7 linked regions of the Homo sapiens genome follow. The protein of the gene in region 7 purifies or fractionates together with the protein of the main gene of each other region. This does not show direct contact. Each region holds a gene or a part of one and is shown on either strand. Other genes may lie near its edges. The genes, in order: GAP43, CNTN1, SPTBN4, PROCR, GRTP1, CD109 and PCDHGC3.

Region 1 (3,500 bases), on a different chromosome or scaffold from region 7:
ACCACACTTGAGATAAGTTCCTTCTGACTCGGGTAGCTAACCCACATGTGGACTATGTGGACATATAGGTATATATGCAGGAGACTAATTCTCAACCAACTTACCCTCTCACTAGATTTACAAGTGTGGGCTTACCAAAATTGTCTCTAACCTATGTCACCCAGCCCTTTTTCCAGTCAGAGATATCGGCCCTGTGGCAGTTGCTAGGTGACCCAAGCAGGACCAATAAAATTCATTCATCCTCATTCTCTCTCTCTCTGTCTCTCTCCCTCTGTCCCTCTCTCCCTTTGTCTGTCTCTCTCTTATCTCTCTCTTTCTCTCTCATCATTTAAAATTTGAATTGTAGCTGGGATTATTAATAACTGAGTCTTTTTTGATGCAGGGCCCCAGAAAGAGTTTATGAATTCCTGTTATTGAAATTCTACCCTGGTTCCCATAGGCTTCGTTGTTCAACTTACTAATTTCATATGATCGCTGCTTTTTTTCTTTTTCCAATAAATTCCTTTTATAGACTCTTAAAGTTGGTTTTGGATACTTGTTCCCAATCAAAAAACGCATATATAATAGAAGTAGTGTGTTCTGAGGCAGAAGAAGAAAGAAACAGGGAGAAAGGGATGTAGCTAGAGTGAAAGTTTAAAGGTGATACCATTAACCAAATATAAATATAATTAAAGAAATCATTATTTCCTTCTGGACACCAGTTTATTTTCAAATTTCTAGTTAACACACCTTTCTATTGCAGTCTACATGAGCCCTTTGTATAAAAGTATTTTGGGAAAATATGTACAATACTAATTTTTTTATGCTAAACTTTTGGCTTCTAGGAAAAATAGGATTTCTTAGACTAACTTGATCCAGTTATTATACTTTAAAGTATTTCTAAATGTTATCCATATGTTTAAAAACTCAGTTTCTTTGGTTTGTAGAATTCTGTGCTTATAGGAGAATCTGTTAAATTTTGTTGTTTTAAAGTGGTAATTTATCCCAGTCATGCCCAGGGACACAGAAGAACTATAATGTCCTTTGTGGAGATCTTGAGGGCTCAAAAGATTATGGCATTTAGAGTTGAGTTTGGAAAGGTTTAGGATTACATATCACCTCTCTAATCAAGGTTTATTCCTGTTGTATTGAGGAGCCCTGAAGTCAGGTTGTGGAAATGGTGATCAAGGGATCATCTTTGAAATGTGCTTCCCCCAACCAAACTGTATCTACATTTTCAGTCTCCCAACCAGCCCTGCATTTTCTCTCCACTCTTCTGCCTGACTGGGCCCTCATGTGATGGATGTGAGCACAGCATGCCTGGCCATCTTAGTGCTGAGAACCCAGTTTGGAGGTGAAGTGGGGGTGGGTATAGAGGGGGAGGCAGCAAACTTAGCAAATGGAGAAGAAAAGAGATCTAAATGTGAGGAAAAGACTAAAACAGAAAAAGATAAAAAGAAAAACAGTGGGTATTTCTAATGCATTTGAAGTGATCCTTGGGTCTTGTAACACTTTGAATATTGGCTTATCTAAATTCTGTCACTGAAGTTTTCAAAGGAAATAATAAACAGATACTATGTTCCCATCCATTAGCATGGTTAATATTTACTCTGAGCCGTGCCCGGCTCATGCCTGTAATCCCAACACTTTGAGAGGCCGAGGTGGGTGGATCACTTGAGCTCAGCAGTTCAAGACCAGCCTGGGCAACATGGTGAAACCTTGTCTCTACTAAAAATTCAAAAGTGAGCCAGGCGTGGTGGCATGCAACTGTAGTCCCAGCTACTTGAGAGGCTGAGACAGGAGAATTGCTTGAACCTGGGAGGCGGAGGTTGCAGTGAGTCGAGATCACACCACTGCACTCCAGTCTGGATGGCAGCAAGACTCCATCTCAAAAAACAAACAAACAAAAAATTTACTCTGTAGAGTATGGGAATCAGGTGGAAATGGGGAATGTGTGTATTCTATACAGAGAGCAAGAGTACTTCTTGTTTGCTTAGAGCCATGAATACTTTAGTGCTCGATCTATGAAATTCCTTAATTAATAATACTTACATTTCAAAAACACATTGTTTGCAAAACACTTTTATTGTTATCTCTTTATTTGAGACTCACACCAACCTAATTTTAAGAAGAAAAGGTAAGACAGGATTTGGAGGTTCTTTTTATGTACCCACTACACAGATGAATATACTAGGCTCAGAAAGGTTAAATTACTTACCCAACATCACATGACAAGCAATTGGCAGAACCAGGTCTAGAACCCAGGGAAAGGATTTATTCCACTACAAAGACATGAAACAGGACATTAAACAAACAACATCTAAGAAAATAAGATCTGTAAATAATTAAGGATAGGAAATCTGGAAGATCACATTCCCGTGCTAAACCTGAATGAAATGACTGCAAGTGTGTCTCTCTGATCTAAGCAGACAGGAGAGGGAATTGAACTTTGACTACATCCACCTTGTGAGGGGGACCAATAGAGCTGAGCTTGCATTTACACAAAGCCCACGCTGAATAAGTAATCAGAAATGGTCGTCTGTCCCAGAACATCTCCCCTAATGACCCATCATGATGCTCCTTCCCTTCCTACATTTATTACTTCAACAAATATTTATTGAGAATCTAAGATGTGCCAGACATAGCTTAAAATACCTGTTTTGTCTATAAGTACTTTTTAGAAAGTTTGAAGAAACACACTTTTTCTTAAAGTTCTCCTTCCATAGCCTCACCCACTAAACACTAACATGAACTGGTATTACTTAATCAGAAAAACTCTACCTGGGTCTGACAGGAGGAGAAAATAATAGAAAAACTCAATGCCAAAGAGATTGGGAGCAGTAAGCAAGATATCAAGTGAGGGTATGGCAATTGACAAATACTACTGAACCTTACCAGTTGAAGACAAACTTCACTTACAAATTATTTAGTCTTTCTGCTGTTCTCAAGGACATGCCAATTCAGTCAGAGAAAATACACTACTTAGCGTCTGGCAAGAGTGTTTTCATGGAAAACAGTGGTTGCAATTTGTTCCATGCTGGGCACAATAGGACTACTTCAGAACCCAAGTCCCTTCAGTCTATTTAAACCTAAGAAAAATCCAATTCATCTGGTACTAACATTCCTTTAACAGTCATTTGAGGGACTACTTACCATTCACCCTCCCTATACCTCCAATCATGATTTATCTTTGTGAAATATTATTATGTGGATACTTCAGACGGAAGAAAAGAAATCCAAATGAAGGTAAAATTAATTTTTGAGCACACACACCTAAGCACAGGCCAGCACTACATGCATTTAAAGAAAAAAATATTGCTACTCTTAGTTGATTTATTTCATGGATCACACAGATTGATTTACGGTCTATTTGTAAGAGTTGTGAAGCAAAGCAGTGAGTGCAAGTACTTGGAGCCTCAAAGTAAGGGCATGTGAAGATCCAGAGTTGTGGTAACCAGAGAGGGTGGGGCTGTAATGTTGGTTGTTGGACGAGGAGGACATGGAGGGGAGATAGTGCCAGC
Region 2 (3,500 bases), on a different chromosome or scaffold from region 7:
ATCCATAACTTTTCTTAAACTTTAAGAGAAAAGTAATCCTGTAATTATTTGACAAAAGTAATCATTTCTAATGAAAAAATCGATAACTTTTTTAAAAATTATTTTATGGGTAAATAATTTCTACAGTTTATCCAGTTATTAGATATATTTCTTTGATATCTAGCTTCTATATGGGTTCAAAGGAAATAACATTAGATACTTCTGAAAGGAGGCAGAAGAAAGTATTACTTTAGCGTATTCTAGGCCACATAGTAACTATTTTTATCCAGCAAAATTATATTCCTCTCCAACTGCTTTAAGAATGGCTCAGAAGAAGTTTGAAATCATGCAAACAGAAGTAAAACAGGAAATAAATGATAAAAATTATAGTGACAAATACTTCCAAATGGAGACCACTTTTATATTTTGAAAGTAAGTCTGCTTCAAAGTTTTTGGGATTTTTAAATTTTTTATTTTTTATTTTTTTTAGTCAATGTAAAACAATTTTGGGCAATGAAGTAAGACTTTGATTCGCTTTTGGCATCTTTAGTCATTCCTGCCCTGTATGCTTTACTATATTCTAAGGCTGATAAAAGGGTAGATATCATTAAGAAACATTTGAAAATATGATGATCAGCCAACACCAATGGTAATAGAACCAGTTGAAGAGAACTTTTCATAGCTGAAGACTCTAAATCATGGCAAAATATAACTCATCCTGAATGTTTGCAGATTCGGTATTGGGCTGCCCATGACAAAGAAGAAGCTGCAAACAGAGTTCAAGTCACCAGCCAAGAGTACTCGGCCAGGCTCGAGAACCTTCTGCCAGACACCCAGTATTTTATAGAAGTCGGGGCCTGCAATAGTGCAGGGTGTGGACCTCCAAGTGACATGATTGAGGCTTTCACCAAGAAAGCACGTGAGTCTCACGTTTTGTTTTTAGACTTGTCAAAAACTACCACTGGATTCAATCATGATACGAATATATTTGAAGGAAATTTCCTACCTAGCTACCTGAGCACATTTTTCAATATCCTTTACAGCCACACAAGATTTCCCTTAAAACGTGAATTATTGTAGATGATGAAAAAATGTGAAAAATACCCTCACACGTTAAATATTCCATTATAGAAATAAAGTTAGAGAACTATCCTTTTGTAAAGGCTGTCCTCTCAAATTCTGTGCCATTAACTTGTCTTTACCCTGTACTTATTAATTTAAACATTGTTTTCATAGGAGTACATCAACAGCATGTGAAAACTAAAATTCTGCTTATTTTTACATGCTTTAATTTATAAACCTCTGTCATTGCACAGTGCAATGCAAGTTAAGTGTGTAGCATTATGCTTACTCTCTTATTACTGTATGTTCTAGTACTGTATGTTTTAGGTGGTTCATAAAACAAGACCGCCTATCCCTGCTCACGTTCTGGTCATTCTAATCTCTCTGGGTTCATTTTGATATCTCTGTTCTTGAACCCAAGTGGAATAAGTAAAAAGGAGAATTTTTATGTAGGACTCTAGGGAATGTCTCAAGAATCTGAAGATGTGATTACCATTAGAGTGTGAAAATTTATGAAATTCACTTTGGGACAGAGACTCTCCCAGTGAGATGACAGAATGTAGTGACAAGAACTAGAATTTGGTGTCTAACATGTGTTTGAGATCTGTCTCTGCCACTTGCTAGATGTATGACAATAGATAAATTACCTATTTAAACCTCAGTTTTCTAATTTGTAAAAGGAGCATTCATTTTTGTTCTTTTTCCATTTGTTCATGTATTTATTCATTCATCAAAAATATGCTGTGTGCTCAGCACTATTCTTGATGGTGAGGATACAAAAGGGATCAAACCAGTCCAAGGTGCTATTCTCGCATGGTTTACAAGCTAATGAAATGAGATAGAAACTTCAAACAAACACAAACTCTGACAAATAAATAAGTGGGATTAAAGCAGCTGACAGGGCAATAAAATGAATAAATAGACAAAAGTAAAGTGACTTAGATAAAAGTGAAATTCTGATTGGGTGGCCAGGAAAGGCCTCTGAGAAGATGCCAGTTAAGCTATGATTTGAGTGATAAATGATAAGAAGAACCCACTATGTGAATAGCTTTAGGCAGAGCCTTAAGGTTCTTTGCACTCTAAGTAGTACAAAACCTTAAGGTGAAGAGCACTTAAAATATTTTAGGTGTGGAAAGGCCACTGGGTCCAGGGCATAGGTTCTGAGTAAGGAGGGGGAAGTGTTCTGGGGCCCAATTACGGAGAACCTTGTAAGTAATTGTGATGAGTTTGAGTTCTTTCTAAACATGATAAGAAGCCATTGAAAGATTTTAAAACAGAGAGTGATATCTAATTTATGATGTTGTTTTTAAAAAAGTCATTCTGGCATCTGTACAGAAAATGGATTGTGGTGGGTTAACAGTGGAAGCAGAAAAGCCAGTTAGGAGACTATTTCAGCAGTCAAGGAGAGAATTGATAGTGGCTAGCACTAAGTGAAAATGGAGACAGAAGTGGAAAGTTTTCTGTAGGCAGAGTTGACAACTTGCTGCCAATTTGGATGTTGGCAATGAGTGGGATGAGAGACTAAATACCAAATTTCTGCTTGAGAAACTAGGGGGTTGGTTGTGCCATTTGCTGACGATGGCAAAGAGTCATTGGAGAAAGATTTGAGGATACTCGACATTATATTACATTTGAAAAATGTATTACATTTGATTATATTACATTTGAGAAATCTTTTAGAGACTCAAGTAGAAATAGGCTGATATCTGCCTAGACAGAGAGACCTATAGCCACATATGTCTAGAGGTTGAAAGAGAGATTAGGGCTAGAGACAGAACTGTGAATATTTAAAGCCATGGGCCTAAGTGTCAGTACTTAGGGAAGATCCACAGAGAGAGTAGAAAAGGTACATAGATGAAGTCCTAAATCATCCAACAGTTACAAGTTGACAGAGGGAGCCAGCTAAGCATGAATAATGGGAAGCAGCAGCCCATGAGGTAGAAGGAAAACCCAGTTGTTAAGATCTGAATTTAAGAAAAAATGAGAGATTCAAGAAAGAAGATGGTCAATTCTGTGAAATGCTCCAAAAATGTTAAATTTAAAAAAGAATAATCAAGTGACATTAGATTTAACCAAGTGGAGGTGATTGATGACCTTGCAAATAGCAATTTCAAAAGACTAGTGGAGAAAGAAACCCAAGTGGAGCATGATGAGAAGAGAATAAAAGTCATATTACCTAGCTCACAGGGCCATGGGGTACATTAAATGGACTCATGGATGTAAAGTGCTTAGCATAGTGCCTGGCATATAGTAAACACTTATTAAAACTAGATGGTGGTGGTCATTATCATCAGCATTATAATACCTGATGCAATAGAGTATGCAGAATTGAGATTGGATATAGTGACCACTGATTGCATATTACTACTTTTCACAGCTCCTAGCCAGCCTCCAAGGATCATCAGTTCAGTAAGGTCTGGTTCACGCTATATAATCACCTGGGATCATGTCGTTGCACT
Region 3 (4,024 bases), on a different chromosome or scaffold from region 7:
ATGGTGGTACATGCCTGTAATCCCAGCTACTCAGGAGGCTGAGACAGGAGAATTGCTTGAACCCAGGAGGCGGAGGTCGCAGTGAGCCGAGATCGCACCACTGCACTCTAGCCTGGGTGAGAGAGTGAGACTCCATCTCAAAAAAAACAAAAAAAAAGAGAAGAAATTTAAAGGGTTAAGTGACATTAGATGTATCTCCTTTACCTTCTGGGCCCCCAGGCCTGATTCTAAGACTAACGGCTGGGCGTGGTGGCTCACACCTGTAATCCTAGCACTTTGGGAGTCTGAGGCGGGTGGATCACGAGGTCAGGAGTTCAAGACCAGCCTGGCCAACATGGTGAAACCCCATCTCTACTAAAAACACAAAAATTAGGTGGGCAAGGTTGCAGGTGCCTGTAATCCCAGCTACTCAGGAGGCTGAGGCAGGAGAATTGCTTGAAACCGGGAGGCGAAGGTTGTAGTGAGCCGAGATTGTGCCACTAAACTCTAGCCTGGGCGACAGAGTAAGACTCCTTCTCAAAAGAAAAAGGAAAAAAAAAAGACTAACAAAGGAGGAAGTTGGGAGATCAATGTCCTCAAAAGACCCAGACAATTGCCAACCCACTGAATTCTAGGAAGGCAGGGTCTAAGTCTTGGTCAGTAGAGTGAGTAGAGTGGAAATTGTCCCTTAGGGGGACACATTGAAATCTTTTTTTTTTTTCTGAGACAAGGTATTGCTCTATCACCCAGGCTAGAGTGCAGTGACACAATCATAGCTCCCTGTAGCCTCCAACTCTTGTGCTCACGCGATCCTCCCACCTCAGCCTCCTGAGTAGATGGGACTAGAGGCAAGCTCCACCATGACCAGGTAATTTTTGTATTTTTTGTAGAGAGGGGGTCTCACTATGTTGCTCAGGCTGGTCTCAAACATCTGGGCTCAAGCTATTTGCCCACTTCAACTTCCCAAAGTGCTGGGGTTACACATGTGAGCCACTGTGCCCAGTCCCAAATCCATTTTTGTTCTTCCCTCCTTCCATGGAAAAGTGAAAGTGAGCACACAGCTACCTACCACCTGTGTGACCTTGGCTGAAATACTTCCACTCTTTGGGCCTTAGTTTGTTCATCTGCAAAATAGTAATGATGGCCCGGCACGGTGGCTCATGCTTATAATCTCAGCACTTTGGGAGGTCAAGGTAGGTGGATCACTTGAGGCCAGGAATTCGAGACCGGCCTGGCCAACATGGCAAAACCCGGTCTTTACTAAAAAAAATACAAAAATTAGCCAGGCGTGGTGGCACGTGTCTGTAGTCCCAGTTACTTGGGAGGCTGAGGCAGGAGAATCGCTTGAACCTGGGGGATGGAGGTTGCAGTGAGCTGAGATTGACTCACTGCACTCCAGCCTGAATGACAGAATGAAACTCTGTCACACACACACAAAAGGGTAGGCCAGGCGGTGGCTCACGCCTATAATCCCAGCACTTTGAGAGGCCAAGGAGGTGGGTGGGTCACCTGAGGTCAAGAGTTGGAGACCAGCCTTACCAACATAGTGAAACCCCATGTCTACTAAAAATTCAAAATTAGCCAGGCATGGTAGCTCATGCCCGTAATCCCAGCTACTTGGGAGGCTGAGGCAGGAGAACTGCTTGAAGTCGGGAGGCAGAGGTTGCAGTGAGCCAAGATCGCGCCATTACACTCCAACTTGGGTGACAAGAGTGAAACTCCGTCTCAAAAAAAAAAAAAAGTAATGATAATCGTACCCGTTTCTTAGCGGTGTTTGAAGAGGTAAGTTATTAATGCAGGGATCATGGTATCTGGTACACTGCAAGCCCTTGATACATGTTCCTTGCTATTATTCTTCATCTTTTCCTCACACATCTCAGCAAATCGATTTGCCTCTTCTGGAGTCAGACAGAAATGAGTTCAAGTTCCGCTTTATTCTTGCTGTATCTTTAACCGAGTATCTTTAACTTGGCCTTTCTGTGCCTCAGTTTCCCTCCCTGTTAAACGGTGGTTACAGCTGTTTTCTTCAGTGGAAGACACTTAGAGATGGGGAGGCCCTTAGCACTCCTGTTAGCCCTCTGGCCAGGCCGAGGATCAGCTCTGGCCATAACGCGATTGAATGGGAAGGAAGGGAGCAGGTAATAGGGAAGCCGGGAAGGGGTGTCCTGCGAGCCTCCCCCCAACACCCCCCCCCCCCCGCAAAGGCTGGTGGGGCGCTGGGCTGCGGTGGCATCAGAGGCTTTAACCCTTCCCAGGCCGCGCCTCTCTCCCTGCGGTCCAGACACTGCGCCCAAGGAGGGGGCCTGGGAAGGACAAGGCCTGGGGGTAAGACCCACGCGTGGCGCGGAAGCTAGACCGGGTGGGGGGGTTGTGGGCTCGTCCTGCCCTCGACCCTTTGCCTCCCTCCAGCCGGGGAGACCCGGGGCTCCAGCCATGCCCCGTGCGCGCGGAGGAGGGATGCTCGCCAGGTGGGGACATACTTGGGGGAGGGGCTGTCGGCCCCCCTAGCAGCTCACCTGGGCCCGCGGCCGCCAGCGTCGCTGTCTCCGCTGCTCGCCGCGACCGACCGCCCTCCCTGTCGGCGTCCGCTGCCCGGCCCGGCCCGGCCCGGCCCAGCCCGGCTCAGCTCGGCCCCGCCGGCCCGCGGCTCAGCCAGATCCGCATGCGCCGCCGCGCCTCCCTCTCTCGCGCCGCCGCCGCGCTCAGCGCGCCCCCGGGACCCCCTCCCGCCCGCGGTCCCCGCGCCCCGCCGCCCGAGGCCCACGCGCAGTCACACCCGGCCGCGGCGTGGGGTGCACGGCTGCACTCGCGAGGGCACGGCGGCGTCACGCGCTGCACACTCCCACGGGGTCACGCTCGCCACGCTGCCATACTCGCGGGGGCCTCGGCGCACAAACTCACCCCCGCATCCACGCGCTTGCGCGCCGTCACTCCCTCCTGTGGGGTCTCACGGGGTCACACCCTCACGCCGTCACACGCGGCGTCCACACTGGAACGGTGTCACCCACCACCACACAAATCCAATAGGGTAACCACCGCCCACGCGGCGTCACACACAAATGCACCTGTCACACACAGCCGCACACTCCCCGGCAGTCACAAACAGTGTCATAGGCCCACACATCACGCACAGCTTCACAGCCACAGTGTCACACACTCTACACACTCGAACCTTCATAGCAGTCGCCCCGCACATGCTGCACCGCCGCACCTCACACATCATAGTCACAGGGGGTCACAATGAGCAGCTCAACACAGACACCCACAGCCACACACTCGAATGGGGTCCCGGTGTCACACATCCTTACACGAGACATGTGGTGTCACACACTGTCACAGTCTAATTAGTCTCACGCTTCCATGTAGCACACCTCACACGTCCCACACCCTATCGTACAGGCTGACGCAGTGTCACCCACGGTGTCACCACAAGGTCACAAAAGAACAGAATCAATGCCTGCCACACGTGGTGTCACGCACGTGTAGTCACACTGTAACACGGGATCACACTCAGAGGATGACACAAGGTGTCACCCACAGTCCTGCTTGCCCTCCGGGTCACTGAGTCACACAGGGTCATATAAGTGCATAGGTACGCCGTGACACAGTGTCTTACATCCAAGTGCACACACACACTCTGTCCTCCTAACTTTCTCCCCTTGCTGGTTCTGGGAGGCCCTGGGGCTTAGAGTGCGCCCCAGATCCGCTCCAGGCTCCGGGAGAGGGGGCGTGAGCTACGAGAGGCCGTGGGTGAGGCTCGCCTGGCCCCGCCCCTCTCCGGGAGGTGGAGCGCGGAGGCAGGGCGCTGAGTGACAAGTTATCTCGGCTCCGTCCACTCTATTTGTTGCTATGTGGAGGCGTGGCCTTCTGTGGCCCCGCCTTCCAGTCTAAGTGGCGCGCAGAGAGGGCGGTGCTGGACGGTGAGCGAATGCAAGCTGACGCCTGCCCCGCCCATCCGCGTTAGGCCCCGCCCCTTGACCTGAGCCGCGGGCGGAGAGTCTGAGGCGTGGCCCTTCGAGCCAGCTCCGCCCCGTTGTTCCTGGCT
Region 4 (2,791 bases), on a different chromosome or scaffold from region 7:
GCAAAAAGAGAGTTCTAGTCCGCAAATTTGCAGATACCATGTAGGGTGATGGTTTGACAATTAGAGGTTACTGGTGATCTCAGAGTAGTTTATAGAGAAGTCAGATTGCACTGGGTCTAAGAATGAGTGAGAAGACCAGGCGCAGTGGCTCACGTCTAATCCCAGCACTTGGGGAGGCCGAGGTAGGCGGATCACGAGGTCAGGATGGCCAACGTGGTGAAACCCCATCTCTACTAAAAATACAAAAATTAGCTGGGTGTGGTGGCATGCATCTGTAATCCCAGCTGCTTGGGAGGCTGAGGCAGGAGAATTGCTTGAACCGGGAGGCAGAGGTTGCAGTGAGCTGAGATCACACCATTGCACTCCAGCCTAGGCAACAGAGCAAGACTCTGTCTCAAAAAAAAAAAAAAAAAAAAAAAGAATGAGTGAGAAATAAGGAAGCAGAAGAAATGGGTATAGGTTACTTTTCCAGAAATTTTGCAAAGTGGAGGAGATAACAATGCCTTAAATATAAGAAATTTATTAATATTATTAATTGATTAATAATTGATCACTGCCATATGACTTGGATTTTACATTTCCACCACTTCTTCGTGTTACTTCTTTCTACCCTATTATATCAGCGTCCCATCCCAAGTCTGACACACCTGGAAGTATTGAATGTTGTATTTTGATTGTGGATGACTTGTTTATTTGGTTATATCTTTTGAACGCCTCAGGTGATTCTGTCTGTCTTTGGAGGATGGGCCATAGGCTTCCTGCCCCAACTCCATTATCTGTTTTCCACAAAGATAGATAAACATTCACTTATCAGACTAATTCAGCAAAGCATACACGTTCTTAGGTTCTTAGCAAACCAAGTACTTTGTCCACCTCTCCTCTCCATCTCCCCTCCCTCAAATCTTCAGTGGGCAGATGTGGGAGAAGAAAGGAGCTGTCACTCCAAACCTTCTGGTGTTTCAGTTGGGGAGTCTGGCTTCACAGTGAGCTGAAACTTTCCCTTGCCAGCCTCCATCAATCCAGCCCCTTCTGAGGGGGCTGGAGAGTAATTAACATCGCCGTCCACCTGTGCACAGGAAGATGCCTACAGCCACACCAGCAATGATGAAACTGCCCACCAGGACGCCCAGGACCAGCGAAGTGTAGGAGCGGCTTGTTTGGCTCCCTGCAGAACATGCAAAGAGTTAGCCCGAAGAATAGGCCCCCAAGGAGTCCATGATTTGAGTCAAACCCCAAAGCGTTTCTGCCCCAGAGGAAAGGGACCCGTTTACCAACTGACTGAAGCTGCGTGTGTTCTGTCCCAAACCCCCAGCTGTGGGCCTCTTGTTGCTCTAGGCATCCATCCTTCAGGTCCATCCATTTGTCTGGAACCCGCCCTCTCCCCAGCTTGCAGGCCTGGGCCCCGTCCCATCATACCTTTCGTGTTTTCCGCGGAAATATGTTTCTGCACATACTGCACACAGGTGTCCTCCAGGAATTCCCGCAGTTCATACCGAGTGCGGTTGTAGGCATTGAGCTGCTGCAGGGTGAAGGTGACCACTCCGGAGGTGACCTGGGTGTCTGCCTGCCACAAGGCTCTCTCCGGCCGGAAACTCACAAAGGAGCTCCCATTCACAGCCACTTCGAAGAAGACATGGGCTCTAGAGCCCTCGGGAGGCAGCTCACAGCCCAGGAAGCAGCGGATGGTCAGAGGAACTGTGGATAGACAGTCAGGGTCAGGGGACTGTGCAGAGAGGGTGCCAGGTGTGGGGCGAGGCCCACCAAGGGGAAAAGAACATGAGAAGGCAAGAGTCAGTGCTGTGAGGAGAGGGGAGTCTAGGTCAGGGAACTATGGGGAGAAGGGCCTGGGGCTGTGAGGAGGGGTTTGGGGTTAGCCTGTTAGAGGCTAAGAAAGAAGGGGCCAGGGACTGTGATGAAAAAAGGGAATTGTCAGGCCTTGTTCAACTGTAATAGAAAAAAAAAACAGGGGGTGAGGCTGGGGCAGGGGCGGCAGCTCACGCCTGTAATCCCAGCACTTTGGGAGGCCAGGCTTGTGGATCGCCTGAGGTCAGGAGTTCGAGACCAGCCTGGCCAACATGGCGAAACCCCGTCTCTACTAAAAATACAAAAAATTAGCCGGGCGTGGTGGCGGGTGCCTGTAGTCCCAGCTGCTTGGGAGGCTGAGGCAGGAGAATCGCTTGAACCCGGGAGGCGGAAGTTGCAGTGAGCCGAGATCGCGCCACTGCACTCCAGCCTGGACGACAGAGCAAGACTCCGTCTCAAAAAAAAAAAAAAAAAAAAAAAAGGGGGGTGGGGTGGGGGACTAGGAGAGAAAGGAGTTAAAGGCCATGATGGTGGGGGAAGGGGGACGGAGTGGTGCTTGGTGCTTTGAGAAAAGAAATTGGGGTCTTTGAGAAGAAGGAGTTAGGGTTGTGACGGGGAAGGAGTGGGGCTTTGAGAGAAGAACTTGGGGTCTTTGGGGGAAGAGTTCGGGTCATGAGTGGAGCTAAGAGCGAAGTCATCAGCTTGTATGAGAAGTGGCTGGAGGGTGGGGGGTGAAGTGCTGGGGGCTGTGGGAAGGGAAGGACGGAGATCTATGAAGAAAAGGAGTTGGAGGACTGTGAGGCGAGGGGTGAGGAGTTTTCTGGGGACCTTCGACGTCACGGTGTCAGGGCCTTCCAACAGGGTCTATCCCAAGAGGTTATGCCAGCAGGACGACCGCCCGAGTCGGGGCTTTCTTAGCGGGGACAACTGCCTCTCTCCAGCCCCCACCCAGCAATCTTCAAAGGCCCAGGCGCCACCGAGCTCCAGT
Region 5 (4,009 bases), on a different chromosome or scaffold from region 7:
TTCCCTGCTCTTCCCAGAACCCCCTCCCAAGTCCATATTGGAAAGTGGGGGCAATGTGCTGAGTGGTTCCCTAAAAAGGAAAATATGGAACCCAAGTTAGCAGCTCCTGGTCGAAGAAAAGGACAGCAATAGGACAGACCCAAATGGCAAAGGCAAAGACGGGAGAATGACTGTGCAGTTGTGTTTTCTGTAAAAACAAAAATTTATGCACAACCATACATCTTTCAGATTCTCCGCTGTAACCAACCTCCAGGTCACAGCCACAGGACTTCCCACGGACTTCCCCTGCTCTTAAAGCAAACTGCAGAACCAAGCGTGGACTTCTGCTCCTGAGGGGGACGGAAGGACAGTCCCCTGCGGTCATCTCTATAGGAGATGGGGGCCATGGGTGGGAGAGAAACTCCCTGTTGCACTTTGTAGCCCTCAGTATGATTAAAGTGTTTACCATGTACATAAATTATGCTTTTTAAGTTCACATGTCTTATATACTTTTACGTTACTTTTTAAAATTAAAAGACAGTTAACTTTTAAGAATAAATCAGGCGCAGTGGCTCATGCCTGTAATCCCAGCATTTTGGGAGGCCAACGTGGGCAGATCCCTTGAGGTCAGGAGTTTGAGACCAGCCTGGCCAATATGGTAAAACCCATCTCTACTAAAAAATAGAAAAATTAGCCTGGCGTGGTGGTAGGTGCCTGTAATCCCAGCTACTTGGGAGGCTGAGGCAGGAAAATCGCTTGAACCCAGGAGGCAGAGGTTGCAATGAGCTGAAATCATGCCACTGCACTCTAGCCTGGGCGACAGAGTGAGACTCCGTCTCAAAATAAAAAAAATAAGAAAATAAAAAATAAATTAGCCAGGTGTAGTGGTGTGCACCTGTAATCCCAGCTACTCAGGAGGCTGAGGCAGGAGAATCACTTGAACCCAGGAGGTGGAGGTTGCAGTCAGCTGAGATCGCACCACTGCACTCCAGCCTGGGCGACAGAGTGAGACTCTGTCTCAAAAATAAATAAATCAAAAAGAATAAATGAAAAGGAAAAATAAAGACACACGTTCCACTGGAAACATGTGAACATGCAGAGGCCACAGGGATGGGACATGATGCATTCGTGGGAAGCATATAGGATATTAACTTCCATCTCTATAAAAAATTTAAAAATTAGCCAGGAGTGGTGGCCACACCAGTGGTCCCAGCTATGCGGGAGGCTGAGAGGGGAGGATGGCTGGAGCCCAGGAGGTCAAGGCTACAGTGAGTGGTGATTGTGCCACTGCACTCAGAGGGATACCCTGTCTCAAATAAATAAATAAAAGCAAAAGTTGATCTTGTCACCCCCTGCCTGGAAAACCTTTAACAGTTGGCTTCTCTGTGCCTGGCCGTGGTCACCACACACCTCCGACCCTCCGCCCAGGTGCAGGGCCCCTGGTTTCATCTCTGTCCTTCCCCACCAGGTCCCTACTGCTCGGTCCCTGGAAGCCCAGCTGCCATTCACATCCCCCTTCTCAGGAAGCCCCCAGGACTCCCCTTTGACCCCACTTCTCTGAGTTCCTAGCTCCAGGGCACACTCCCACCAAGCCCTCACCCCAGGCAGACACTTCATTCATTCACTGAACACACAGGGAAGTCGCCTGGCACTGCCCCAGGTTCTGAGGACTGAGCAGTGAATGAAAAATCCGTTGCAGGGAGGAAGGGTTTTTGACTCCAGCAGGGGCTGTGCTGGGAAAGGCAGAAATGAGGAGGTGCCCTCCGCACAGGGAAGCCTGGGGCGCCCCGGAGGAGGGGGCCCTGCAGCTAACCCCGAGGCGGGCGGGCGGTCAGGCCGGTGCTCACCGCAGCAGTAGGAGGCCTGGGGTCGCGGAGGAGCGGCAGGTCGAGCAGGGCCCTGTGGGTCCCGTCACAAGGACGGAGTCTCGCTCTGTCGCCCAGGCTGGAGTGCAATGGCGCAATCTCGGCTCACTGCAACCTCCGCCTACTGGGTTCAAGCGATTCTCCTGCCTCAGCCTCCAGAGTAGCTGGGACTACAGGCAGGAGCCACCACGCCCGGCTAATTTTGTATTTTTAGTAGAGACGGGGTTTCACCATGTTGGTCAGGCTGGTCTCAAACTCCTGACCTCGTGATCCGCCCGCCTCGGCCTCCCAAAGCGCTGGGATTACAGGCGTGAGCCACCGCGCCCGGCATGGATCGAGTTTTGATCCATCCCGATATGGCTCCCTGCTGGGAGGGACGGGTCTCCTTCGCGTCCGACCCGCCGGCCCATCTCAAAGCGGGAAAACCGGTCCCTGCGGCTGCCCTAGCTCGGAGCCCGCAGCTTCGTCCCGACCTGCCCGGAAAGGTTCCTCCCCCTCCCTCCGCTCCGGGAGCCCGGACTTTGCCCGGCCCGTCCCAGCCCAACCCACCTGCGCCCTCGGGACCCACCTGCGCCCCCGGGACCCACCTGTCCGGCTCCTGGGGACGCCCCCGCCCTGCAGCAGCCGGGACCATTTGATCGCCCTGCGGGTGAGCGTGACCAGGTAGCTGGAGAAAAACTTCTCGTAGGCGGCGTCGTCGAAGTCCTCAGGCCGCTCGAATCCGTACGGGTCGATCCTGCAAAACCGAGAGAAGGAGGCCGGCGTCCCCGAAGTTTCCTCTGGGGGGTCGCGGGCCCGCGCGGGGACCGCAGCCGCCGGGGACGCCCGCACCCCGCGCCACACACCTGGGGACCCGCGAGCGCTCGGCGGGCTGCATGCGGGGAGGGAGGCGCGCACCGAGCGAGGCCAGCGGGTCCCAAGTTCGCCTCCCGGCTCCGGGGCGCTTAAGTCCTTCCGGCGGGACCGCGGGCGCGTGGGGGCGGGGCGGGGAGCGGAGAGGGGCGGGGCTGGAGGCGGGGGCGGGGGGGGGCAGGGCGGGGGGAGGGGCGGCTGGGGGCGGGGAGGACTTGGGGAGAGAGGAGGGGCAGGAGCGGGGGAGGGGCAGGGGAGCACCCAGGGCGGGGGAGGGGCGGGGCTGGGGGCGGGAGGACCTGGGGAGAGAGGAGGGGCAGGAGCGGGTGAGGGGCGGGGGAGGGCCGGGGGAGGGGCAGGGGAGCACCCAGGGCGGGGGAGGGGCGGGGCTGGGGGGGCGGGAGGACTTGGGGAGAGAGGAGGGTGGGGGCGGGGCGGGGCCTGCTCCCGGGGCTTCCGAGGCCGCGGCGTCCCGCGGGCAGAATCGGGGGCGCCTCCCGCAGAACCCCCGCGGCCTGGACCCGGGTGAGAGGAGCTTCTTCTGCGATTCCTTCAAACCTCAGTGCCTGGCCGACCCGACTCTGACACCTGACTCCTATTTTTATTTTATTTTTTATTTTCTCCGCTGCATTTCAAGGCCGAGACCAACACACAAATGAGAAGCCCCCAGGGGCGCCCGCCCGTTCCTGCCCCCCCAAACCAGGGACCGGGGTCCCCCCACCGGCGAGCCAGGCCTGGGAGAATCCGGGGCAGCTCTGGTTCCGAACGGCTTCTTCTCGGTCCGCATCCAATGACATTGTCCTGAGATTTCAGCTGCTTTTCGTGTCCGGGAGGCCCCGGAAATTTGCCAGAACTGCAGATTTTGAATTTTGCTCTGGCGACGTGGCAAAGGGGAGCCCCCAGACGTGAGGCGCTGGGGCGACCTCGCCCTGGGTCCCCCAGGGGTCTGGAGCGGGGGCTCCTCCGACAGGCCTCTCCCCGCCTGTAATTTAGGCCCAGGGCGACCTGGACAGGCCCCAGGAGGAGGCCGTCCCCGGACTCCAGACGCACTTTCCTGTGAGAAGCAGCCCGGCCTCGTCTGGGTGAGGCGAGGATCACAGGCTCAGCGTCCCCTGCGCGTCCGTCAGGGCCTTTCGGAACCAACTTGGGACCTTCCCATGGGTGTTTCCGGAATGTTCCATGCGAGCGCCACCCAGGAGCCTGGTCAGCAGCGTGTGGAACGGACCGGTCCCTAAGTGCGGACTCCCGCCTCTGCCTTTCACCCTTCTCCAGCCCTTGCAAGACCGGGGGGCGGGGTGGGGGTCAGTGCCCAG
Region 6 (3,611 bases), on a different chromosome or scaffold from region 7:
AAAAAATGTACAGACATTGGCAAATGGTTGCTGAAGGCAAAATCACTTCCAGTTGAGAACCCCCGATTGTGAAATGCTATCTTTAGTATTTCACAGAAGCCCAGAAAATTCATGGCAACAGAAATATTAAATAACACTGGGTGGGAATTAAGAAAATGTACATGAAATCTTATGTTCTGGCTGAGACAATCTGTGCCTCCATTTTCCTGTGTGTATAAAAACTATGTGTTCTATATACTTCTATATAATTTCCAGAGATTAAGTGAGTGCTCACCTCACATTAATTTTTTTAATTTGTGTATTACTTACCTCTCCACTGAGCGGGGAGGTAAAGGAGGCTGGTAATCAAATTTCTTCAACTTCATTATGTTGCTACCTTGCAACACAATAATCCCTACTCTAAGCTAGCCTCAAATATCCTGTTTCTCATAAATAAGCTTAAATAAGGGAGGTGTGCTATAGACATGCTTTATGCTAAAATAAAAAGAACACATAATAAATAGATGAGAATTTAAGCTTTTATTAATAAATCATGATTTTCTATTGAATACATAATAAAGTACAATTAACAATAACATAACATTACAACATTAAAAATTAAAACTTTCAGAATCACCTTGATCAATATATAAAGCTTTAGTTCCTTATTTCAACAGTGTTCTTCTCATATGCAAAACAGCTTCCCAAAATAAGAGATTCGTGAATGAAATTTTATAAAGCTTCCTGTGTACCAAAGAGATTGACTCCACATCAACTGTCCCCTACTGAAAATCCAAACCATACAGGCTTGAAGGACCAGAACTGAGCCACATTCTATTAAAGTTATCAAAGATAAAATCTTAAAGATCTACAAATGGAACATGGAACTACCTTCTACCACCAATTCAATACACTGGGCAAACGTGGTAAATCTTGGCCTCAAGACAACATAAGATAGAATGATTCTTAAATATGTAGCAACAGATATATCAATATTATCCCTATTACAGAGACACATGTATACCAATTTATAACTGTTCTTTGCAGTAAGAAACTCAGAAATCATCTAGGAAATATCTATTTTCCTATGTTACAACTGAAATGAAAATGACAACATATTTTGTAAAATGATGCAATGTGGTATTGTCTTTTGATGAGACATGAAAACACAACTCACTGGCTAGAAATAGTTGTAAAACAAGCCTACTCTCACTGATATATACTTACTTTAAAAGTTACACTTACTTCTTAGTTTTCTGAAGAAAGAAGGATAATGGTCCTCTATTCAAAGTAGTAATAAAAATAATTGCACCTCAAATTACTCCCAGTGTAACATAAGATATTTAATATTAACATAAATATCATTTGCATAGATGATAGAAAAATTCTAATTTCTTAAAAGTGCTATGCCTTACTGGAATTTGAAGACAAAAAAAAAAGTGAGGAATACACTCTTCTGCCTGTCCGACAGAAGCCTCTACCGAGAACGTAAAAGGTTCTGAAACTCATCTATGAATGAGTCCACTTACTATAAGTGTCTTAAATTTACAATGCGCAAAAAACCAATGCACCCAAGAATACATCATGGCACCTTGCCCCATGGTAACCACTTGGCAGACTCAAATAATAACTACCCTCATAGGGAGAAATCTTGCCAAGGGAGAATTTACAACATATTTTTAGAAAGAAATGAGTATTCAATCATTCAATAAAGCAAATCAGAAAAAGTAAGGTTGTGAAAAGAACTCCAGATTATATGCCAGCAGGTTAATAAAATAATTCTTTTTTAAAAAATGACAAAGAAAAATCATAGTTCCAATTTTTTACTTAATGTCTTGAGTCTGCCAGACATGTCAAATGAAATAATTGAATTATGTAAAAATAAAAATAGTTGGTATTATATTGACAGACTACTTATAAATATGTTTAGCATAAATAGAAATTAAAGCTAAATATGTCTTTTTCTAAAAAAAAAAAAAAAATTATACCTAGGCTCAAAAGAATAGGAGCAGGGAGAGTTATGCTATCTACAATTCTGAATATTTCCACGTGCAGGATACAGTATTACATATGTAAGTAACATCTCCTAGGTAACAGAAATATATCTGGATTCTACATAAGCAAAACACTCCTCAGATTATAATATATAATCCAAAATACTAAACCAAAGATACTATTTTTACAATGTTTTGAAAAACAAAGTACAATAGCACAACACAATAAAAGGAAGCATTTCATTGACCAGACATATTTTAATGGGCTTGAATTTCTTTTTTAAAACTATAACTAAATGTAATAAGATGGTGGAACCAAATATAAAAATGTTATTCTGTCCTAGAATTGTTTGGCTACTAGGTTTTCCCAACATTCAGTCTCTGGAAGCATCGGCCAGTCAGAAAGAGAGGTAAGATATGCTGGTGTTTTACTAAGGTTCCCAGTGAGTGGAAAAGAAGGGGGACTTTAGTTCATACCAGTAAATGACATTGACAGTATTCTAAATGGAAGAGCTTCAGCATAAGGAATCTTAATGGTAAAATGAGTTTTTTAATATTATTACTCATAGCATGTGAAGAAAATAATTTATACTAGTAATTATTACTACTACATATACTCCTTTTCTCCTTATGCCTGTGGTATTTTAATCACTTTTAGTCCAAGCCCACTGCTTGTAGCAGAGCAAGTTCTCTAAGGGAAGTATGAAGGAAGAAGTGGCCGGGACATCTGCACAGCCCCATGCACCAGGAGACAGTGCTAGCTAACCCTTTATGTTCCTTCTCATTGTTGTCCTCTTCATTTTTAATAAACTTACAATAAAAAGAGATGAGTTACAAGGTGACTTTTTTGTTTTTTGTTTTTTGAGACAGAATCTCACTCTGTCCCCCAGGCTGGAGTGCAGTGGCGTGATCTCGGCTCACTGCAACCTCTGTCTCTCAGGTTCAAGTGATTCTCCTGCCTCAGCCTCCCGAGTAGGTGGGACTACAGGTGCATGCCACCACGCCTGGCTAAATTTTGTATTTTTAGTAGGGACGGGGTTTCACCATATTGGCCAGGCTGGTCTCAAACTCCTAACCTTGTGATTCACCCGCCTCAGCCTCCCAGAGTGCTGGGATTACAGGCATGAGCCACTGCGCCTGGCCTACGAGGTGACCTTTAACTTGAAAACATGGAGTTCTTCACCAAAAAAGTATTCAAATGATAGTTTTTAAACAAGGAAATATGGTCTAAAAAAGATACAACCTGTCTTCCAATGGCCTTTCCATTCTAGTGTTTCCTAATATATTACACTAGAAGTTAACTATAAATTATATACTTTAAAATATAAAGTATTGATTGTCAGTATAAGGTTCCCAGGCCAGGAAAGAGGAGGGGAAAGTCCTTTGCCAAGACCCTCCCCCAATTTCTTTGTAAGATGATTTCACCTTTAAAGAACTCCCAGAGAGTAAAGGGCAAAAACACGTTTACAAGGAGGCCCCAACATTACAAGTGCCTGTTTTAGAACAGATTGTGTCAGAGGTGTAAGAGATCTAGAAACTTTTCCCCACTTAAGAAAAAAAGGCAAGAAAATTAAGTATTTGATACTTAACTGCCCTCTTCATAGACCACTGTCTGGGGATCTATTTTCTATGTACAGG
Region 7 (3,255 bases):
GCTCACTGCAACCTCTGCCTCCTGGGCTCAAGTGATTCTCCTGCCTCAACCTCCTGAGTAGCTGAGATTACAGGTGCACACCACTAGCCCAGCTAATTTTTGTATTTCAAAACAGCATTTGAGCACCTACTGTGTGCCAGGCACTCTGCTGGATGCTTCACATGCACAATCACTTTTAACCTCTACATAACAGCCCAGCCAGCTATGTGGTATGACCCTCATTTTACAGATGAGGGAACCAAGTGTTAGAAGGACCAAGGCCATACCCGGTAGCATTTGTTAGAGGGGCATTCAGGCCCAAGTGTACCTAAGCGCATGCTGGAAGGGACAGTCAGTCACCATCACCACCAGCAGCTTGGACCTTATCCCTGTTCTGAGTGAATGGGAGGTAGAGAGAAGATGGAGAAGAGCTCGGCTCTATGAAGCTGAGGAGATGATGATCTCGGGGACTAGACATCTCAGGGACACTTTAGGCACAGGCTCAGAGTGCCACAGCTAGGTGACATCAGACAGCACCTCCAGTCCAACGTCCCACTGTACAGAAGAAGAAACTGGGGCCCAGAGAAGTCCACACTCTGGCCCTGGCTCAGCATCACCCAGGAACTTGTTTAGAATGCAGCCTCTCGGAATTGCCAGCTGATTTGTACGCACTGTGAAGGCTGCTGTGAGGACTAAATGAGATGGTGCTTCATCCTGTGCAATACATCATCAACACCGTCACATCCAGCATGCCATCACCTCTACCCCTCACCTGCCCTGACTGGGTCGGGGGTGGGAGAGGAGGAAACAAGAGTTTGACTCATTGGGGCTCGCTGCTGGAGGCCCTGAGATCCTCTGTGGTTAGGAGACAGTTAAAACCTCAGGGATGCCCAGGCCAGCCCAGGCCCAGCTGGCAGTAGAGCTTCTCTCCCAGCCTCCCTCTGCCTCCACCCTGGACCCTGGGAGCGGGTAGCGAGAGTGACTAAAGCCGGAGAGGCTGAGTAATCCTGGGACATCAACCAGGGATTGAGAAATAGAGAGACAGGAAATATTTTCAAGCCGGCATAAGAGGAGGAGGGCACACGGGAGGGGAGAGCCGGGATGCGCCTCGGTTTTTCTCTTCACGCACCAGCGCTCAGGTTTCTACAGCCCCCATTTCATGTCGCAAATCCCCGGAGCTGAGAGCTTTCTGGGGGCGGGGGAGAGGGGTTGAGTGGGAGGGAGCAGCTGCCCACTTCCTCCTCTCCTACCCCAGCTGGCCCCCACCCCCAGCCCTTTCATTCCGCTGACATTTCTCTGTTTTCCCTAATTAACTCCAAAAGGAAGCCAGATCCGCCACCGCCCCGCCCCCTCCCCTCCAGCCGTCAGCCTCTTCAGCCTTTCCCAGCCTGGGAATGGAAGGGGTAGGGGAGGGGGGCCCAGATCTGGCTTCAAAGAGCCAGGATTCCAGAGTGATTTAGGGGCTAGAGGGGGGACCTCAGAGGCGCCAGAGAAAGAGCGGGGTGGGGGGTGTAGTCTCCCTGCACACAGAAAAGAATGAGGAGGAACACGGAGAAGCAGGGAGAAGGGAGGCAGAGACAGAATGACAGGAAGGGCCTGACGGAGTAGCTAGAAGCTCGGCCCACCCACGTCCTATGTGCACCCAAGATCTCTGAGTAGCACCCCGAGTGGGTGCAAGTGACAAAGCCATCCCCCGCCCACCTCGTGGGGGGTGCCCTGAGGTTGGGCTGGACCAGGAGGGAGAGAAGATATGGAAATCCAGAATGTAAAAGAAAGAGAATATTTGCTCTGCTCTGCCACTAAGGAACTGTGTGAGCTTGGTCAAGTCTCTGCGTGGCTCAAGCCTGTTTTCCCATCTATAAATCTGAGGGGAAGAAGTTGGATTGCCAGCTTTGACTTTCTGTAGAGTCAGTTCTCCAGTGCCCCTCCCTCTACACCCCACTCCCCCCAAGGCCCACCTTGGTCAAGGACCGGGATTTTCTCTTGGTCCCAGGAGAGGCAGACTTAGGAGAGCCTCAAGAAGCTGGACATCTTCTGGCCTGGACGAGGTGGGGGTGATGCCTTCTCTCCTGTGCCAGCCTCTACTCAGGGAAACTCAGCCCCCAGCTCCCTGACCTCCCTCTGTCCTCTTAACCTACCCCATCCCAGGGCCAAGGCAGCAACTCCAGAGTAGCCCAAGGAGGCTGATTAGCTGGAACACAGCTGGCTGAGCTGCAAACCGCAGCCTCCTTGAGAGCATCCCTCCCCGCAGATGTTTATTTTAAAAGCCTCCTCCCAAGTGTCGGTTTTTACTCTCCCTCTTACTTAACCCCTCTCAGCAGCCCCACAGGCCTGGCTGGGCTGGACTTCAGGAACCTCTCTGGTTTCAGGGCTAGGAAGCGGGTGTGAAAGTGAGAGCAGGGCCTGACCCACCACCTCCACCCCCAGGGTCCGTTCCCCAGGGCGCAGGCTTAGACGAGGGTCAGGCCCTGTGTGGGCCAAAGGTGGGAGGCCTTGACAGGGGAACGAGCTGCATGACTTGCTTGGAGGGTTTGGGGCCATAAATACTGATTTCATTTCTGTTTTTAACATCTGGATTTAGGCTAAAAAGCTGCTTCCTGGCCTCAGGGCGCAAGGCCACAACAGCTAAATATACCTGTTTATTTCCCTCAAGAGGCCAACTTGGCATCTCCTCAGACCCAGCCGCCTGCCACTTTCATACTCAGTCTCTGGCCTCTCTGGAATCATAGCCCCACCAGACCTGGGACAGCTCTGCCTCAGGAGGCCAGCAGTCCCTGCCACCTCTCTCTCTGTCCTTCCGTCAGCTGTAGGCCTGGCCCCACTTAACCTCACAGACATCTGGGGTAGAGTTGCCAGATTTAGTAAATAAAAGTACAGGGCTCCCAGTTAAATTTGAATTTCAGGTAAACAATGAGCATTTTTTTTTTTAGTACATTATGTCTCATGCAACATTTGAGACTGACTTATGCTGAAATAGTACTTGCTGTTTATCTGACATTCAACTGTAACTGGGCATCCTGTATTTTATCTGGCAACCCTGATCTGGAAGAATAAAGCAGAGCTCGAGGAAGAGGACAGCCTCTCATCCTGCTCAGGTAATAGAGAAGCCGAGGCTGGATCCAAAGGCAGCCATGGTCCCTATAGTAGAAAGAGCATAAACTTAGGAGTTGAGCCAGGTTAGAACCTCAGCTTGGCAGCTCAAAACTGAGGACCCTGGGGCAAGTGCCTTCTCGGTTCTCTCATCTGTCGAGTGTGAGAAATCAGACCTGCCTTGCA

Evidence for each region.
Region 1: the proteins of PCDHGC3 (region 7) and GAP43 purify together in Homo sapiens (affinity purification with mass spectrometry; 2 studies listed by BioGRID and IntAct, with this or other methods). This does not show direct contact.
Region 2: the proteins of PCDHGC3 (region 7) and CNTN1 purify together in Homo sapiens (affinity purification with mass spectrometry; 2 studies listed by BioGRID and IntAct, with this or other methods). This does not show direct contact.
Region 3: the proteins of PCDHGC3 (region 7) and SPTBN4 purify together in Homo sapiens (affinity purification with mass spectrometry; 2 studies listed by BioGRID and IntAct, with this or other methods). This does not show direct contact.
Region 4: the proteins of PCDHGC3 (region 7) and PROCR purify together in Homo sapiens (affinity purification with mass spectrometry; one large-scale study listed by BioGRID and IntAct). This does not show direct contact.
Region 5: the proteins of PCDHGC3 (region 7) and GRTP1 purify together in Homo sapiens (affinity purification with mass spectrometry; 2 studies listed by BioGRID and IntAct, with this or other methods). This does not show direct contact.
Region 6: the proteins of PCDHGC3 (region 7) and CD109 purify together in Homo sapiens (affinity purification with mass spectrometry; one large-scale study listed by BioGRID and IntAct). This does not show direct contact.

The regions. Positions count from the first base shown.
Region 1 is NC_000003.12:115,630,010-115,633,509, reverse strand, and holds part of GAP43 (neuromodulin), read right to left. Parts: intron 1-3,500. UniProt on the Homo sapiens protein: This protein is associated with nerve growth. It is a major component of the motile 'growth cones' that form the tips of elongating axons. Plays a role in axonal and dendritic filopodia induction.
Region 2 is NC_000012.12:41,024,439-41,027,938, forward strand, and holds part of CNTN1 (contactin-1 isoform 1 precursor), read left to right. Parts: intron 1-711; coding exon 712-898; intron 899-3,418; coding exon 3,419-3,500. UniProt on the Homo sapiens protein: Contactins mediate cell surface interactions during nervous system development.
Region 3 is NC_000019.10:40,465,777-40,469,800, reverse strand, and holds the start of SPTBN4 (spectrin beta chain, non-erythrocytic 4), read right to left. Parts: upstream 2,801-4,024; 5' UTR 2,496-2,800; intron 2,078-2,495; exon of another isoform or gene 1,737-2,077; intron 1-1,736.
Region 4 is NC_000020.11:35,175,072-35,177,862, reverse strand, and holds the end of PROCR (endothelial protein C receptor precursor), read right to left. Parts: intron 1,696-2,791; coding exon 1,417-1,695; intron 1,166-1,416; coding exon 1,050-1,165; 3' UTR 501-1,049; downstream 1-500. UniProt on the Homo sapiens protein: Binds activated protein C. Enhances protein C activation by the thrombin-thrombomodulin complex; plays a role in the protein C pathway controlling blood coagulation.
Region 5 is NC_000013.11:113,361,331-113,365,339, forward strand, and holds the start of GRTP1 (growth hormone-regulated TBC protein 1), read right to left. Parts: upstream 2,801-4,009; 5' UTR 2,722-2,800; coding exon 2,690-2,721; intron 2,581-2,689; coding exon 2,432-2,580; intron 539-2,431; exon of another isoform or gene 229-538; intron 1-228. UniProt on the Homo sapiens protein: May act as a GTPase-activating protein for Rab family protein(s).
Region 6 is NC_000006.12:73,825,203-73,828,813, reverse strand, and holds the end of CD109 (CD109 antigen isoform 1 preproprotein), read right to left. Parts: 3' UTR 501-3,611; downstream 1-500. UniProt on the Homo sapiens protein: Modulates negatively TGFB1 signaling in keratinocytes.
Region 7 is NC_000005.10:141,506,966-141,510,220, reverse strand, and holds part of PCDHGC3 (protocadherin gamma-C3 isoform 1 precursor), read right to left. Parts: intron 1-3,255. UniProt on the Homo sapiens protein: Potential calcium-dependent cell-adhesion protein. May be involved in the establishment and maintenance of specific neuronal connections in the brain.